Linked DNA regions of Homo sapiens: region 1 is linked to region 2. A link means that fine-mapping ties the variant in region 2 to the expression of a gene that starts in the linked region. Tissue or cell type: whole blood. Region 2 holds a variant in brackets; the other region holds the start of a gene. All regions are shown on one strand. Distances are from middle to middle.

Region 1 (7,852 bases), 110 kb after region 2:
TGCAAAGGCTAATAATTTATAATGACAGTACTGACAATTTGCAGATATATATTCTGCCATCTAATATGTGAACTTTTTTTTTTTTTTGGAGACAGGGTCTCATTCTGTCACTCAGACTGGAGAGTGCATTTGCACAACCACCTCCCACACTCAAGCAATCGCCCTACCTCAGCATAGCTGGGACCACAGACGCACACCACCACAGCCGGCTAATTTTCGTTGTATTTTTGATAGAGTCAAGGTTTCACCTTGTTGCCCAGGCTGGTCTCAAACTCCTGAGCTTAAGCCATCTGCCTGGCTCAGCCTCCTAAAGGGCTGGGATTACAGGCGTGAGCCACCCCACCCAGCCCTAATATATGAATTCCGAAAAAGGTATCTGTTATCTCTTAAAGTGTCCACCTTCCAAAAGCTGAGCTGGAATGATGACAAGGAGCTCCACTTACTGTTGCCTCATATGGATAGGATTCCTCAGAGTCCAGGCCTCCATTATCCTGAACATACTGGAAAGCATAATCCATTAGGCCACCATTGCAGCCTTCATTGCCTTGAGGCCCAGAGCAGTCTACCAGATTCTGCTCACTCAGTGAGATAAGCCTCCCAGTTTTCCGGAACATCTGTCCTTCAAGAGCACCAGTAGCACTAAAAGCCCAACAAGAACCACACTGACCCTGAAAAGGGAATTAAAAAAAGCTGTCATCCACAAAAAAAAAATAATAAGACTTTGACAACAGCTCACACATCTGAATACTGTTAAAAAGTGAACTGTACATCACTTTAAAGTCTACCAAAACAAAGATGTCAATCACTTCTTGGCTTTCCTGGGAAGATGGGAGGTCTGAACCTGACACTGTCTCACCTGATTCTTCACAGGAGTCACGTAGCCTTTCTCTCTCCAATCCACAGATCTGGGGGCCTCATAAAACAGAGGTTCCTGGAACACTTTCCCCTTCCTGGGCTTACGGTTTTGAAAGCCATTCATCACCTGCCTGAATTCTTCACTGGTCTTCAAGGAAAAGGAAATAAAATGTTGAAAAGCAAGAGATTACCTTAGTAAAGAACCGAAGAGAGGAAGCACAGAGCTCGGCAGTCCACAGCACACTTACCATGTCTCCAAAGGCGTTCATGGCCATTGTGAAGCTGTGTTTCCCTTCCCTGTATTCCTGATTGTGCAGTTCAATCATCTTCATGTTCTTCTCCCACACTGCTCTCCTCCATCCTTCTTCATTCTAGAGGCAAACATGTAACTGATGCTCTTTACTTCTACCTAAAACCCAACTCATCCTCACCAAGTGAATCTGCAGACAGAGATGGAAGAGAAACCATGGCAAGGGAAGGCTTGACACCTCTGGGGATGCTGTTCTCCAAACTGAGACACAACAAGGATGAATGTCCACATTGTGCTCATAATCCACGCCATTAGGTTATTACATTAGGCTATTGGTAAAAGCTGGCCTCTAGAAGCTACTCTCTGACTAAAACTTCTCAACAGCCAGGACTATTCTTTCTGGGGAAGTTTCACTAACCATGCCGTATAATCTGTTGTGCATCGCCTTCCACTTGGTCCACTGTGCCTCTAAACTGTGATCAAATGTTAGAGTAGCTGAGGCAATTCCCAGGCAAAAGGCAGCAAGGATGAGTGTAGGATTCATGTTTTAAAACCTAGGAAGGGAACAAAAATGAGGATCTGATTAGACCAATCCTAAAAAGCCATCTTACTGCCCCCTGAAAAATTAGGGCCACCATGGTAGAATAAAAATATTTAAATTATTCTCCCAAGCATTTACCCAAGGACTGTGGAAGAGGCCAAGGATGTGCCTGGAGAAAAACAGGGCACGTGGAGGTACTGGATGGACTCACCAAAATGAAAAGCAGCCTGTCCAGAGCTGTAGGAGCTGAAACAGTTTATGCGATGACAATTTAGGTTATGAGAACGGTATGAAACTACCTTGTGTGTGAGAAGCTTAAGGCAACAACTAGGAAACCGGGAAACGGTTGATCCAGGTTTTGTACCAATCGCAAAAAATCCAGGTTTCGTGCCCAGGCAAAACCTCACTAATGATAAGGTGGGATTCCCAAGTAGGGACAAAGAGATCCCCAAGAGTTAGGAGGCCTTCACACATCTTCCTGACTAACAAACACCAAAAGCTGAGATAAGTTTTCCAATCTCTCCTATTTATTTATTTATTTATTTATTTATTTATTTATTTATTTTTTGAGATGGAGTCTTGCTCTGTGGCCCAGGCTGGAGTTCAACGGCGCGATATCGGCTCACAGCAACCTCTGCCTCCCGGGTTCAAGCCATTCTTCCTCAGCCTCTTGAATAGCTGGAACTACAGGCGTGCGCCGCCTCGCCCGTCTAATTTTGTATTTTCAGTAGAGACGGGGTTTCACCATGTTGGCCAGGCTGGTCTCGAACTACTGACCTCAGGTGATCCGCCCACCTCAGCCTCCCAAAGTGCTGGGATTACAGGAGTGAGCCACCGCGCCGCCCCAACCTCTCCTTAAATGAAACCTTTCTGAAATGCTTTCCCAGGAAAAACTGGGAAGGAGAGCACGCACTGCTCCCTCCTTCATTCACTTGGGCCTGTGCTGCCGACACCCCAAACTGCTCCCCTAAATCAGGGACGGGGTCATATGGCCGCACGCGGGAAGCCAGCGCCCTGCAGCCAGCTTCCAGGGCTCCAGGCGTGGCAGGGCCGGGGACATGACGCCTGCGCCACACACTGGCTGTAGCGGTCAGAGGATGTTTGCGGTGACGCCAGCAGGAGTACCGCTGTCTGGCGTGCGGGGACTGAGCTTCCCTGTCTGGCCGGGCCAGGCCCTGAGTCGGCGCGGCGCGGCCTGGCTGCGGTACCTGTGTCCACCCGGCTCGGAGGCTGGCCTGCCCGCTCAACCAGTCACGCGCCTCCGCGGGGTCCTCAACTGCCCTCCCCGGCTTCCCCACCTCAAGGCCAGCAGAGTTCGGGGTAGACGCTCTCGTTGCCAGGGCTGGTGCACACCTACTCGACCGCGTCCTCTCTTCCAGTCCCTGTCCGGCCACAGCTGGGCCTGGCCGGCGGCGCTTTCCTGCTGCGGTCGTAGCTGCGCAGGCGCACTCCACGGATGCCGCTCAAGGTTGCGGAGGTCGCGGTTCTGGCCCAGCTTCGCCTGACTCTGCTTCTAAAACCTCGGGTCTGGGTTCGGCCGGCACCGCCCCGCCGCCTGGCTGCGCTGCGATTGGCTGTGCCGGCAGCTGGGCGGGGACTCTGGGTGCTCTGATCCCTGGCGCGGTTCGTGGCTTGTTTACTGACTGTCCCAGAGCTGGGCGTGCCTGCCTCAGTGGACCTGGAGGAAGCAGAGCTGGTGCCCCGGGGCGGCGCAGAGTAGGGTCGGGCGTCTCCCTGGAGCGCTCGAGTCAACTAAGTACACGACTTACTGCACTGGGCGAGTGGCTCCTGAAAAGACGTTTACCGCAAGCCCTGTGTGGACTGTTTCAGCCTAACCTTGCTATTCCTTAGTCCTGGAATTTTTGGTCCGCAGAGCCGAGAGTCAAGTGTACTCTAGTCCAGTGGCTCCTGTTTAGTCCACAGCAAACGTGGGGCCGGGTGGACGAACGCAGAGCCCGCGGGCAGAAGCCTTATCTCCCACTTAAGGGTGGGTGCAGCTGGGCTTTAGAAGAATCTGGTAAGGAAAGGCATCCCCAAAACACGAGATGCTATCGTCAAGACCAGACCCTAGGAGGGAGGAGACTGGCTGCGTCTCCAGAGAGCGCGGGCGTTTTGTCAAGCATCCTTTCCAGACTCCTCCATTCAGGGATTCTTCCTTCTCCCACGTCTTACCCAAAACCAACAGAAATGAGTTATTTACAGAAACATTTGGTTGACAGGAGAAAAGCAGTTGAGAACATTAGAAGCTGCTTTTATTCGCCCACTCTCTAGGCTATGGATTATATCTTCCTTGGTAACCAAGTCGTTCTCTTGAGATTTAAGAAATTTAATGACATTTAATGTCAGGATTTAAGATACAGAGAATGGAGAAATGTTGTAGATAGAGGAAAAATATGTATCTTAATCTGTATAATGTAGATATTAATTTATGTAATTAAGGATTTAAGGAACAAAACCCACAAACATTCTAAACTTTTGTCATTTCATTTTTTATTACATAAAAACATTCATTGTAGAAAATACCTTTCGGGGAAAAAAATAATTACCTCTGCCTTTACCCCATAACCTTTTCGTATGCATATTTTGACTTTGTTAAAAATGAACAAAGTCCATTGATTTCTATTGAAGATTAAACTGATAACTCTTTTAGAAGCACAATCACCTATAGTTTTTTAAGTGGTAAAATATACCTCACATAGCAAGTACCATTTTAACCAACTTTGAGTTCAGTAGCATTAAGTACCTTCACATTGTGTAACCATTACTACTGTTTATTCCCAGAGCTTGTTTATCTTCCTAAACTGAAACTGTATCCATTGAATAATAGTTCCCCATTCCCCCTCTCCTAGCTCAGGTATCTACCATTATATTTCCTGTCTGCAGGAATTTGTTTACTATTTTGGAGATTATTCCTCTTTTTTTTTTTTTGAGACGGAGTCTGGCTCTGTTGTTCAGGCTGGAGTGCAGTGGCGCAATCGCAGCTCACTGCAATGTCTGCCTCCTGGGTTCAAGTGATTCCTCTGCCTCAGCCTCCAGAGGAGCTGGGACTACAGGCGCGCACCACCACGCCTGGCTAATTTTTGTATTTTTAGTAGAGATGGGGTTTCACCATATTGACCAGACTGGTCTTGAACTCCTGACCTCGTGATTCGCCTGCCTTGGCCTCCCAGAGTGCTGGAATTACAGGTGTGAGCCACCGTGCCCGGCCGATTATTCCTCTTTTTATGCATTGCTTCTCTGGAGAACCAGTCACAATGTGTAGAATACAATCTAACTGTGATATCTGTCCTAGTCTCTTTTCTGTTGCTAATAACAGAATACCTGGAACTGTGTAATTTATGAGAACAACATTTATTTCTTACAGTTTTCGAGGCTGGGAAGTCTGAGGTCCAGGAAGTGTATCTTGTGAGGGCCTTCTTGCTTGTGGGGATTCTTTGCAGAGGCCCAAGGTGGTGTAGGGCATCACAGGGCGAGAGGGCTGAGTGTCCTAGCTCAGGTCTCTTCCTCTTCTTTTAAAGCCATCAGTCCTGCCTGGGCGCAGTGGCCCACACCTGTAATCCCAGCACTTTGGGAGGCCGAGGCAGTCAGATCACTTGAGGTCAGGAGTTTGAGACCAGCTTGGCCAACAGGGTGAAATCCTGTCTCTACTAAAATACAAAAATTAGCCAGGCGTGGTGGTGCACACCTGTAATCCCAGGTACTTGGGAGGCTGAGGCGGGAGAATCACTTGAACCTGGGAGGTGGAGGTTGCAATGAGCCGAGCCGAGATCACGCCACTGCACTCCAACCTGGGTGACAGAGCGAGACTCCATCTCAAAAAAAAAAAAAAAAAAAAAAAAAGCCATCAGTCCCATTCCCAAGATAACCTGTTGGTCTATGAACCCATTATTCCATGAATAGATTAATGTATTCATTAGGGAAGAGCTCATATGTCCTAATCACCTCTTAAAGGCCCCACATTTTAATGCTGCCACATTGGAGATAAGTTCCAACAAGAGTTTTGGAGGGGGCAAACAAGGAAACCATAGCAGTATTTAAATTTATTATTTTATGAAATAAAAACAATATTTCTGTGGTGTTAGGTAACTGGAGTACCTACGTCTGCCTTGGTTCTAACTTTGCAGATTTCAGGATCACAAGAAGTTCATTGGAACAGCTGAATGTTTCTACCGGGGGCTTAGAGCTCACTTGGTCCTTCATGAGTTCCTTACTGGGGAGTGTGAGAGAAACTGCTCAGATGGCCTCCCCTTCCCCAAATTTGAAAGAGAAAGAGAGAGAGTTGTGAGTGAGTGGCTTTGCTCTCCAGCACTTGCTTAGTGAAGAGCCTCAGAATCTGGACTGTGGCCTCCCAGTTCTGAGGAACCCCATTCGCCACCAGGAGGGGTGGCATGTTCACCCCGTTATTCAGGAAGGAATTGGAAAACAAACAATCGAGGGTGTGAGGTCAAGAGCTAGAAAATCGCAAGCCTCTGGCACCTGAGCCAGGGCAGATGCTGGGAGCACCTGCAGGATACTCCCATATTCTGCCACCTTGGTACTTATCAGCCTCTGAGAACTGAAGCCGGACCCTTTCTTTGCTTGAGCAGAAGATCAGACCAAAGAGCTCATTGACTCAAGGAGCATCATGGCAACTGGGCTGTACCCGGAGGGGAAGAATCCAGGGTCTGATCCACAACCAAGGCCTGAAGAAGTGGGGCCTGTACTTGACCTACCCAGGGTGAGTCATGACCCAAGTGCTGGGGCTCTAGCCATGGGTGGTCCTTCCAACCATTTCCAGCTTCCTCCTGCAGAGGGGCTGGTGTTTTTCTTCATTTTCCATAACCTCCTTGGGAGCACAGGCTTTGGTTTCTGCCTTCCCTGGATCAGGTCTCCCACAATGCAGTTGCTCTAACAAAAACTATTAGCAACAACATAGTACCACAGAAGCCAGCTCCTTGCTAGCAGTGATTGCTGATGATATTGTCTTCTAGAGACCATTCTAATGACTAGACAGCCTCGGTGCAGGAGGAGCTGTTGTCGGTCATGAGGAGCATTTCCTTGTCTATGTAGAGGAACTGAAACCGATGTGGCCAGCAAAATTTACCCAAAGCAATCACTGGGATACTCATCACACCCTCATGGCCCATTGTATCACTTTTGTTCCCTATATATGTGGTCCCATTTCCTCAGGACCAGTACTCCCTTATGTGGGGAGCAGGACTGATGCCTTGAGTTACTTATAGTGACTCGTTAGTTGGGGGATTTGCTAGTATTTTCATCAAACTTGAATCTAGTGAAACATTTGATTGAACTGGCTTCCAAATTGAAAATAAACCAACACCACTCAGGAAACCTATTTACAGCGAGAAGTCAGGAGTGGGAATGCATCTTGCACTGTCACCTTGATTAACAATAGCTCTGACCTGTGGGAGGACGGTCCTCTCTCCTGTAACAAACATAGGGTAGTGATGGGCCAGGTCCTGCTGCTCCTACATTCTCATCACTTAGATAAGCACAGGCAGGTGACTGCAAGCCTTCCAGCCTCCACCAGCATCCTCCAGTTCTCCCCTGACCGCTCTCATTCATATTCCGCACTGATTCAGAGGTCCAGTCCTGAGTGGCAAAAAGAAACATGCGTGAGCCTTTCTAGAAATCAATCAATCATTCATGGATTATAGTGAATTCTTCCCTACTAAACACATCTCCAGAAATTCAGGCGTAGTAACTCCCTTCCTGAATGTCTTTCCAAGGCCCTAAGTGACATTGATGTTCCATAGACAATGTCTTACACGGCAAAGTGCTTCTGGGGGTGGGAACCTGCTGACCTTCCCTGGAATCCTGACTGCAGGTTCTGTTTAGAACATGGGGTCTCATTTTGAGAAGCTCTTGGTATTTATCATTCACGGGAAGTTCACAGGTTCCAGAAAACACTGGACAGCATTCAGGGGAAAGAAAAGGGGCAGAGATGGAGACACCTGGTCAGTTTGGCCAGAGCATCCTGGGGGAAATGCACTGAGGGACAGAGGGGCAAATGCACATGGGTGGTGGGGAGAGGAGCAACGCAGATAGCAAAGACACTGTCCAGACAACCTCCCAACTCAGGAGAAGGGACTGAATCCAAGAGGAGAAGAGGAGGGATGAGGCTGGGTGCTGAGGCATGCCCCAAAGTCTTTGAAGTCTGAAAATCAGACACCCGTAGACTTGATTTTGGTGTCCTGATAGAAAAA
Region 2 (7,852 bases):
CATAGAGCATAAACCCAATCAGGTGGCCGAACCGCCAGAAGCCAGAGTCCCCAGTGTCCGCGCCCACACAGGGGTAGGCAGCTTCCCAGGCTTTGGGCTGGGGACCCAGGCCAGGTCCCCTGCCTCTTGCTTCCACCCCCCGCTCATGCTCACTGTGGCCCCAGGAGGTGGGTGGTGGTGCAGGGAGCAAGCGGCGCCTCTGCCTGATTTGCCCGGGTCGAGCCTCCCTGTCCCACCCCACCAGCCCTGGGAATACTGCGGCCTGGCACTCCTGAAAATCCCTCACTCACCGAGCTGAAGGACTTGCTGGGTCCCTGGTGGCCCCTGTCCAATCTCAGCCCACTGGGGTCTCAGCTGCAGTAGCCACAGGTGGACAGGCACAGTGGGCAGGTGCCGAGTCCAGGAGTCTCCCGTCGCCTAAGGCCGCCCGAAAGCAGCTAATTGACTTCTTAAGGCTGGGCGGGACCTTCCGGCGGGCTGACTCCTAGCCTGTGGAGCGGCTCAGTCCACTTGCCTCAGTGGAACCGGGGGGAGGGGAGCTGGGGGCTACGAAGAGAAGGGTCGGAGGTCTCCCTGGAGGGTTCGGATCAACTAAGTACCTTATTTAATGCCCTGGGCCGGTGGTTCATGAAAAGAAGTTTACAGGAGCCCTGTGTGCATTTTCAGCCTAACCCTGCTTTTCCTTTAGGCCTAGAATTGTTTATTAAAATCTCCTGCAGGGCCGAGAGCCAGAGGACTCTAGCCCAGTGGTTCCTGTTTAGTCCACAGCAAAGAAGGGGCCGGTTGGAAGAACTCACAGCCCGCAGGCAGAAGCCTTATCTCCCAATTAAGGGTATAGAAGAATCTGGGCATGTTGCTGGTGGCTCATGCCTGTAATCCTAGCACTTTGGGAGGCTGAGGCAGGCAGATCACTTGAGCCCAGTAGTTCGAGACCAGCGTGGGCACCCTGGCGAAACCCCGTCTCTACTAAAAATACAAAAATTAGCCGAGTGCGGTGGCCTGCGCCTGTGGTCCCAGCTAGTCGGGAGGCTGAGGCACGAGCATCCCTTGAACCCGGAAGATCGAGGCTATAGTGAGCCGAGATCGCACCACTGCACTCCAGCCTGGGCGAGAGGAGACCCTGTCTCAAAAACAAAACAAAACAAAAAACAGCAAACAAAATACAACTGGTAGGAAAACGCACCCTCAAAACACATGATGAGATGGTCAAGACCAGACCCTAGGAGGGTGGGGACTGGCTGGGTGGGTATCCAGAGACCATGGGCGCTTCATAATGCATTGTTTCCAGTCTCCTCCACTCAGCGATTCTTCTTCCCCTGAAGTCTTGCATTAAGTAAGTGAATGAATCAATCATCAAGAGTTAATGAAGCTCTGACTTTGTACATATTGTCCTTTGCTTGGTACAGTTGGGGACTGCCTTAGAAACAATCTCCAGGTAACTTTTCCAACTGCTTTTGTGAGGCCCAGTTTTCCATTTTAAAATCTAAGATTAACTCAGTAATCTTGCTTTTACAGCAAGTGGGCATGGAGCCTGACGGATATATTTAAACTAAGTTATGGACAAGCTGCTTGGTGCATTAGATAGCACAGGAGATAACCTTGTGGGACATCCCACATTCGTAATATCCACCCCTAAGTCTATAATCAATAAATGCTTGTTTGGAGGCCATAGAAACTCTTCTCGAGATCTGACCTGTGTCTTCTGCCATCTACCTGATTTCTCCCCATAGAGTAGGAAAACACTGTGTAGGAGATACTGTGAATAGAAATATGAATATAGGCTGGGTGTGGTGGCTCACGTCTGTAATCCCAGCACTTTGGGAGGCCAAGGTGGGCGGATCACCTGAGTTCAGGAGTTTGAGACCAGCCTGGCCAACATGGCGAAACCCCGTCTCTACTAAAAATACAAAAATTAGCCAGGTGTGGTGGTGGGCGCCTGTAATCCCAGCTACTCAGGAGGCTGAGGTATGAGAATTGCTTGAACCCTGGGAGGTGGAAGTTGCAGTGAGTGAGATGGCACCATTGCACTCCAGCCTGGGCAACAGAGTGAGACTGTCTCAAAAAGAAAAAAAAAAAATTACAAAAATTAGCCAGGCACGGTGGTGGGCGCCTGTAATCCCAGCTACTCAGGAGGCTGAGGCAGGAACAACTGCTCAAACGTGGGAGGCAGAAGTTGCAGTGAACCAAGATCACACCACTGCACTCCAGCCTGGGCAACAAGATCAAAACTCCATCTCAAAACAAACAAACAAACAAATAAATAAACAAGAAGATGGATATGTTGATAGAAAAATAAAAGACATGAAATATACAACCTACAAAATAAAAATGATCAATAAACTCTAAAAAGTTTACCTCACTCATAAAAATAGAAATTAAAACAAAAAAGAGGTCTTTTTTCCACCAAACTGATGAAGTTGAAAAGACAATACTATCTTGTGTTTGCCAGAATAAATTAAAAAGAACCCTCTTATCACTGACGGTAAAAGTATAAATTTATGCAACCTTTCTGGAGGAAAACTTCAATATGTATAAAAAGATTTTTTACCCAGTAATTTAATTATTTGGAATTTCTGTTGAGAAAACAATCAGAGAATCATGTATTTATGACCTAGATTGTTAATCTCAGGTTGTTTTGTTTTTCAAAAAGTTAGGAGCCATCAAAAGGATAGTAAGGGAATATTATAAACAACTCTACACACATAAAATTGATAACTTAGATGAAATGGACTAACTTCTCAGAAAGCACAGTACTCTAACTCACCCAATATAAAATAGATAATTTGAAAGACTAGGTTCAGGGCTCAACTATTAGAAAATAGAATTCAAAAAAGAAATCTCCAGGCCCGGATGGTTTCACTAGAAAATTATACTAAATGTTCAAAGGTTATTCAATCTCTTCCAGAAAAGAGAAGAGGAAGGAACATTTTTCAATTCATTTTATAAAGTCAGCATTACTCTGATACAAAAACCAGACAATGATAGTAAAACTGACCCAATAATCTCATAGACTGTTCTTTCGGATAAACATAGAAACTGACCTTTCTGTTCTTAAAGCTTGAAGCTTACATTTGTTTTATATGAATTCCTTCCTCAGGAAAGGAACTTCAGACCTCTCAAAAAGAGTATTAGAGA[A/C]CTGAAAGTCACCAGATCACCACATCCTGACAATGAGAAGCCTGGAGCCCTCATTCCTCATTATTGCTTCCTTTCCCCTCTCTAGTTCCTGTATTCTTGCACATTGTCACATTTCTTCTCTGTTATATAAACCTCTAGTTTTAGTCTGTCAGGGAGATGGATTTGAAACTGAGCTCCCCCATCTTCTCAGCTGCAGCACCCAATTAAAGCCTTCTTCCTTTGCAGTACTTATTGTCTTAGTGATTGGCTTTTTGTGTGGTAAGCAGCAAGGCCTAGACCAAACCCCTGGTGTTTTGGTAACAATAGTTCCAAAAAAACAAAAACAAAAGACTACTACAGACCGGCTGGGTGCGGTGGCTCACGCCTGTATTCCCAGCACTTTGGGAGGCCGAGGTGGGTGGATCACGAGGGCAGGAATTCAAGACCAGCCTGGCCAGTATGGTGAAACCCCATCTCTACTAAAAATACAAAAATTAGCCAGGCGTGGTGGTGAGTGCCTGTAATCCCAGCTACTTGGGAGGCTGAGGCAGGAGAATCGCTTGAACCCAGGAGGCGGAGGTTGCAGTGAGTCGAGACCGCACCACTGCACACCAGCCCGACAACAGAGCGAGACTCCATCTCAAAAAAAAAAAAAAAAAAAAGAATACCAAAGACCAAGATCCCTCATCAATAAATGAAAAAACCCTTAACAAAGTATTGAGAAGTAGAATTCAACAACACATAAGACAAATTATACACCATGACTGAGTGGGATTTATTCTGGTAATAGAAGGCTGGTCCGGTATTCAAAATCAGTCAGTGTAATCCACCATATCAACAGGCTAAAGAAGAAAAATCATATAATTATATCAATTGATGGAGAAAAACCACTTGAACAAATTCAAAACTCATTCATGACTTAAAAAAGAAACTCGCTGAAGTGGGAGGATCACTTGAGGCCAGAAGTTTGGGACCAGCCTGTGCAAAGTAAAAAGACCCTATCTAAAAAAAAAAAAAAAATTAGCCGGGTGCAGTGGCTCACATCTTAATCCCGGCACTTTGGGAGACCAAGGCGGGTGGATCACGAGATCAGAAGATTGAGACCATCCTGGCTAACACAGTGAAACCCCGTCTGTACTAAAAATACAAAAAATTAGCTGGGCATGGTGGCACACGCCTATCGTCCCAGCTACTTGGGAGGCTGAGGCAGGAGAATCACTTGAACCCAGGAGGCAGAGGTTGCAGTAAGCCGACATTGCGTGACTTCACTCCAGCCTGGGCAACAGAGCAAGACTCCATCCCCACCCCCCCCAAAAAAAAAATTAGCTGGAGAGGTGGGTGGTGGTGCATGTCTGTGGTCCCAGCTACTTGGGAGGCTGAGATGGGAGGATCGCTTGAGCCTAGGAGTTGGAGGCTGCAGCGAGCCATGATCACACCCCTGCACTCCAGGCAGAGCAACAGAGTAAGACCCTGTCTCTGAAAAAAAGAAAATCTTAGAAAACAAGAAATAGAGGAGGAGCTTACCTCAACCCTATCAAGTACATCTACAAAAATTTATAGCTAGCATTAGTATTTAATGGTGAAAGAGTGAATGCTTATCCTCTAAGATCAGGAGCAAAGCAAGGATGTCCTCCTTCACTACTGTTACTCAACATATGTAACCCTGGAAGTCATAGTCAGCACACTAAGGCAAAAAAAATAATGGAAGGGAAAAAGATTGGAAAGCAGGTAATAACATTGTCGTTCTTTGCAGATGTCATGATGATCTGTATAGGAAATCCCAAGGAATTTACAAACAAAAAACCAAAACACTCCCTAGAATGAGTGAGTTCAGCAAAGTCACAGGACACAAGATCAACATACAAAACCAACTGGATTTCTATATATTAGCAATAAACTAATTCATAATAGTAATTAAATTTAAAATATGTACTTTAATCACTTAAAAAATGAAATAGTATTATATAAATCTAAAAAACGTTTGTAGGATTCTTATGCTGAAAAGCACTACATGTATGCATGTATATATTTATGTGTGTGTATAAACTTGCATATATATGTATCTGTGTGTTTGTCTGTATTAATTAAATGCAATGATCATGGCCCAGATTGTGTTACATGGTGGGAAAACAGACATGAACAAGACGGAGTGGGTACCTCCCTTCAGGTTGCTTACAGTGTAGCTTGGAAGTCAGACACTAAACCCAAGAATGAAAATGTGTTGGGAGCTTCAAAGAAGTAGCCCTGGATGCTCATGGCATCAAGCACCTGGAATACCAAATCATGAGGTCAGAGCATAGGGGTGAGACCATTCAGATTTACAAGGCTTCTAACTCTACATCACCAGAATGTCCTCTAATTCTAGATATCTGGAGGAGAGAGGCTGATTGGGCCATTCTAGGTCAGGACTCTCTCTCCTACCCCATCAAGAGTGTGTGTGTGTGTGTGTGTGTGTGTGTGTGTGTGTGTGTCTGTGTGTTTGTGTGGTGGGAGGCGTGACTCAATATAAACGTAGCAGCTAAGAGTTCTAATTTTGGATAAGGGGGTGAGGAAGAACCATTTGCACTGGCTGGATGCACCAAAGGCTAGAAAAAAACTAGAAAGAGGACCAAGATTTAAAGAACCAGAGGAAGAGGAGCTGTGGGGAAGAGAAGCAAATGAGGAGCATCCACAGAGTCAGAGAGAAAGCAGAGTCAGGGCTTCCTGCTGTTGAGTGAGTTGTGCAGCTGTTCCAACTGCAGTAGATTGTTCATCTCAGGTTGTTTTTTTCTCAGAGTTCTCCCACTGAGCCATGAAGGTGACAGTGCTATGTGCCTCAGATAGCTGTTGAGTGTGCAGAGTGAGACGCTGCACCCTCCGCTCAGTGATCTGAGTTGTGACTATCATGGCTCAGGAGTGCAGCTTACGATTTTAGCATCTGGGAGTGCTTTTCTTGGCAGGCTGCAGACACATGCGTTTGGAAAATAGGAAGAAATCCAAAAATGGCCTTTGCCATAGCTCAGCTAGAATTGTCGGTAACGTGGCAACTCATTTTCTCTGGATAGATTTGTGGCAGCTTAAAATTCTAAGAACTGCACTTTCTTCAGTGGTTCAAGGAGATCTGAATCCCATGCCTCTGACAAAGGGTTCTCTCCTGAAACAATAACACACCGTGTTTCTCTCCTTTCTTCCACAGACCTCAGAGGACAAGCCTTCTGAAAGGGATGCCCTGCAGCCTGGCTGCAACATTGTGACCATAGTTTATACACTGTACAGTAGCACAACCCTGGTGGCTCTCTCCACAGGGCAAGGGGTGGACCTCTTCATGCTTGACTTGGTAGGTACAGAATATGGCAGCCTCTGGGCTTGGGGACTTGATGGGCCTCTGTGCTTTAATGCTAGTCCCCTGGGATAATTTCCTGGTCATTCCTAATACTTGTTTTTGGGGCCAGAGAGTCTGAAAACCTAGTTTTGGGAGCCAACGCCATCATCAGAAACCATGAAGGGCCTTTGTCCCAGTGAGGGAACCCGGGGTAGGGGTGTCCTGCAGAGTCAGTTGCATCAACTCAAGCCCTGTCCTTAAGGAGTTCATTTTTCAAAAATGCACTCGATCTCTTTGGTTTATGAGAACTCCATGATTTAAGAATCGTAATGCTGCGAATTTCCAGACAGAAGCATGAATGCTTTAGAGCAGCATCATCCCATAGAATGCTCTGTGAGTTTTGCTTTTAAATGCTGGATGCCTTGTTTATCACTTGTGAAATGCTTTGCCAAATACACTGAGGTCTTGTGAAAACTCAGATAATGTTGACCAATGACGACTTCAAAACCCCTTGTGTTCACTTAGATGAAAGGTCTGTATTTAAATTTAATTTAGATTTACAGATGTTATTGAGCATCTACTACATCCCAAAGCACCATTTCAGGCAGTGGAGATACAACATTGATCAAACACACATGCCAGCCCTTGTGGAGTTCACATGTCAGTTTGTATGTGGAGAGAGGGGGATTGCAAATTTCAAAATGAAACAGAGTTAACAAAACAGGGTTTGCAGTATGGAAATCCAGAAACTTTTCAAATCTTTTCACCTATAAACCCATTAGACCAAGGCCCACTGCTGTGTCAGTTTGCTAATGCCACAGTTTCCCTTTATTTTCAAAGAAGCTGGCAAACCCTCAGAAATTCTATGGCTTACACATATTACTCTCAGACAATAAATTGCCCTTTCTACAGTTGCTATAGAGTAACAGCTAACATAATTCTTAATAAGTTGTAGGAATGTAGGTACCTGTCCTAGGGAATTTACATCTATTAATGCATTTAAACATCACAGCAGCCCTGTGAGGTAGGTCCTACTATTATTCTCATTTTCAGATGGGGAAAGTGAGGCACATAGAGGGTGAGTAACTTGCCTGAGGTCAAGCTAGTGACTGGTGGTGTCAGGAGTCACACTCCGGCAATCTGTGCTTTAACTACTAAACCAGACCGAATTTCAAAAACAACTGCTCTTGAGTACAAGTAAAATATCTCCAAGAACATTCTGAGCAGTTCTAAAGGCAACGGGAGGTGCTTTGACTCAGGTACTCAACTCAAGGATTCCCAGGCAAAGACAGAGCCTCTGCTTTCTGCCCTCAGTCACGACAGCAGGGCCCAGTCTGGACATAGGTGGGCACGAGAGCTTGTCAGCATAACAGAAGGAAGAGATGAACCATAGCATAATCTTTCCTGATTTCTGTGTATTATCCTGAAACCCCTTTG

What was found. PIP is the estimated chance that this variant, and not a neighbour inherited with it, causes the effect.
Region 1: it holds the start of CTSL, and the variant in region 2 is fine-mapped to the expression of CTSL in whole blood (TOPMed, PIP above 0.99).

What each region holds. Positions count from the first base shown.
Region 1 is chr9:87,721,401-87,729,252 of GRCh38, reverse strand. It overlaps CTSL (cathepsin L), which reads right to left and starts at 3,134. Exons shown (of 8, transcript NM_001912.5): 1 at 2,855-3,134; 2 at 1,524-1,659; 3 at 1,104-1,226; 4 at 857-1,003; 5 at 444-668. The coding sequence starts at 1,649. RefSeq lists promoters at 1,817-2,237, 1,817-2,856, 3,061-3,271, 3,110-3,291, 1,649-3,291 and 7 more, cis regulatory regions at 2,238-2,471, 2,472-2,617, 3,193-3,194, 3,217-3,220, 3,231-3,234 and 12 more and enhancers at 2,822-3,343, 6,758-6,807.
Region 2 is chr9:87,835,661-87,843,512 of GRCh38, reverse strand. It overlaps the pseudogene FBP2P1. Among named protein-coding and RNA genes, the nearest start is that of SPATA31E1, 43 kb to the left of the region's middle. The variant A/C (reference allele first, on the strand shown) is at 3,136.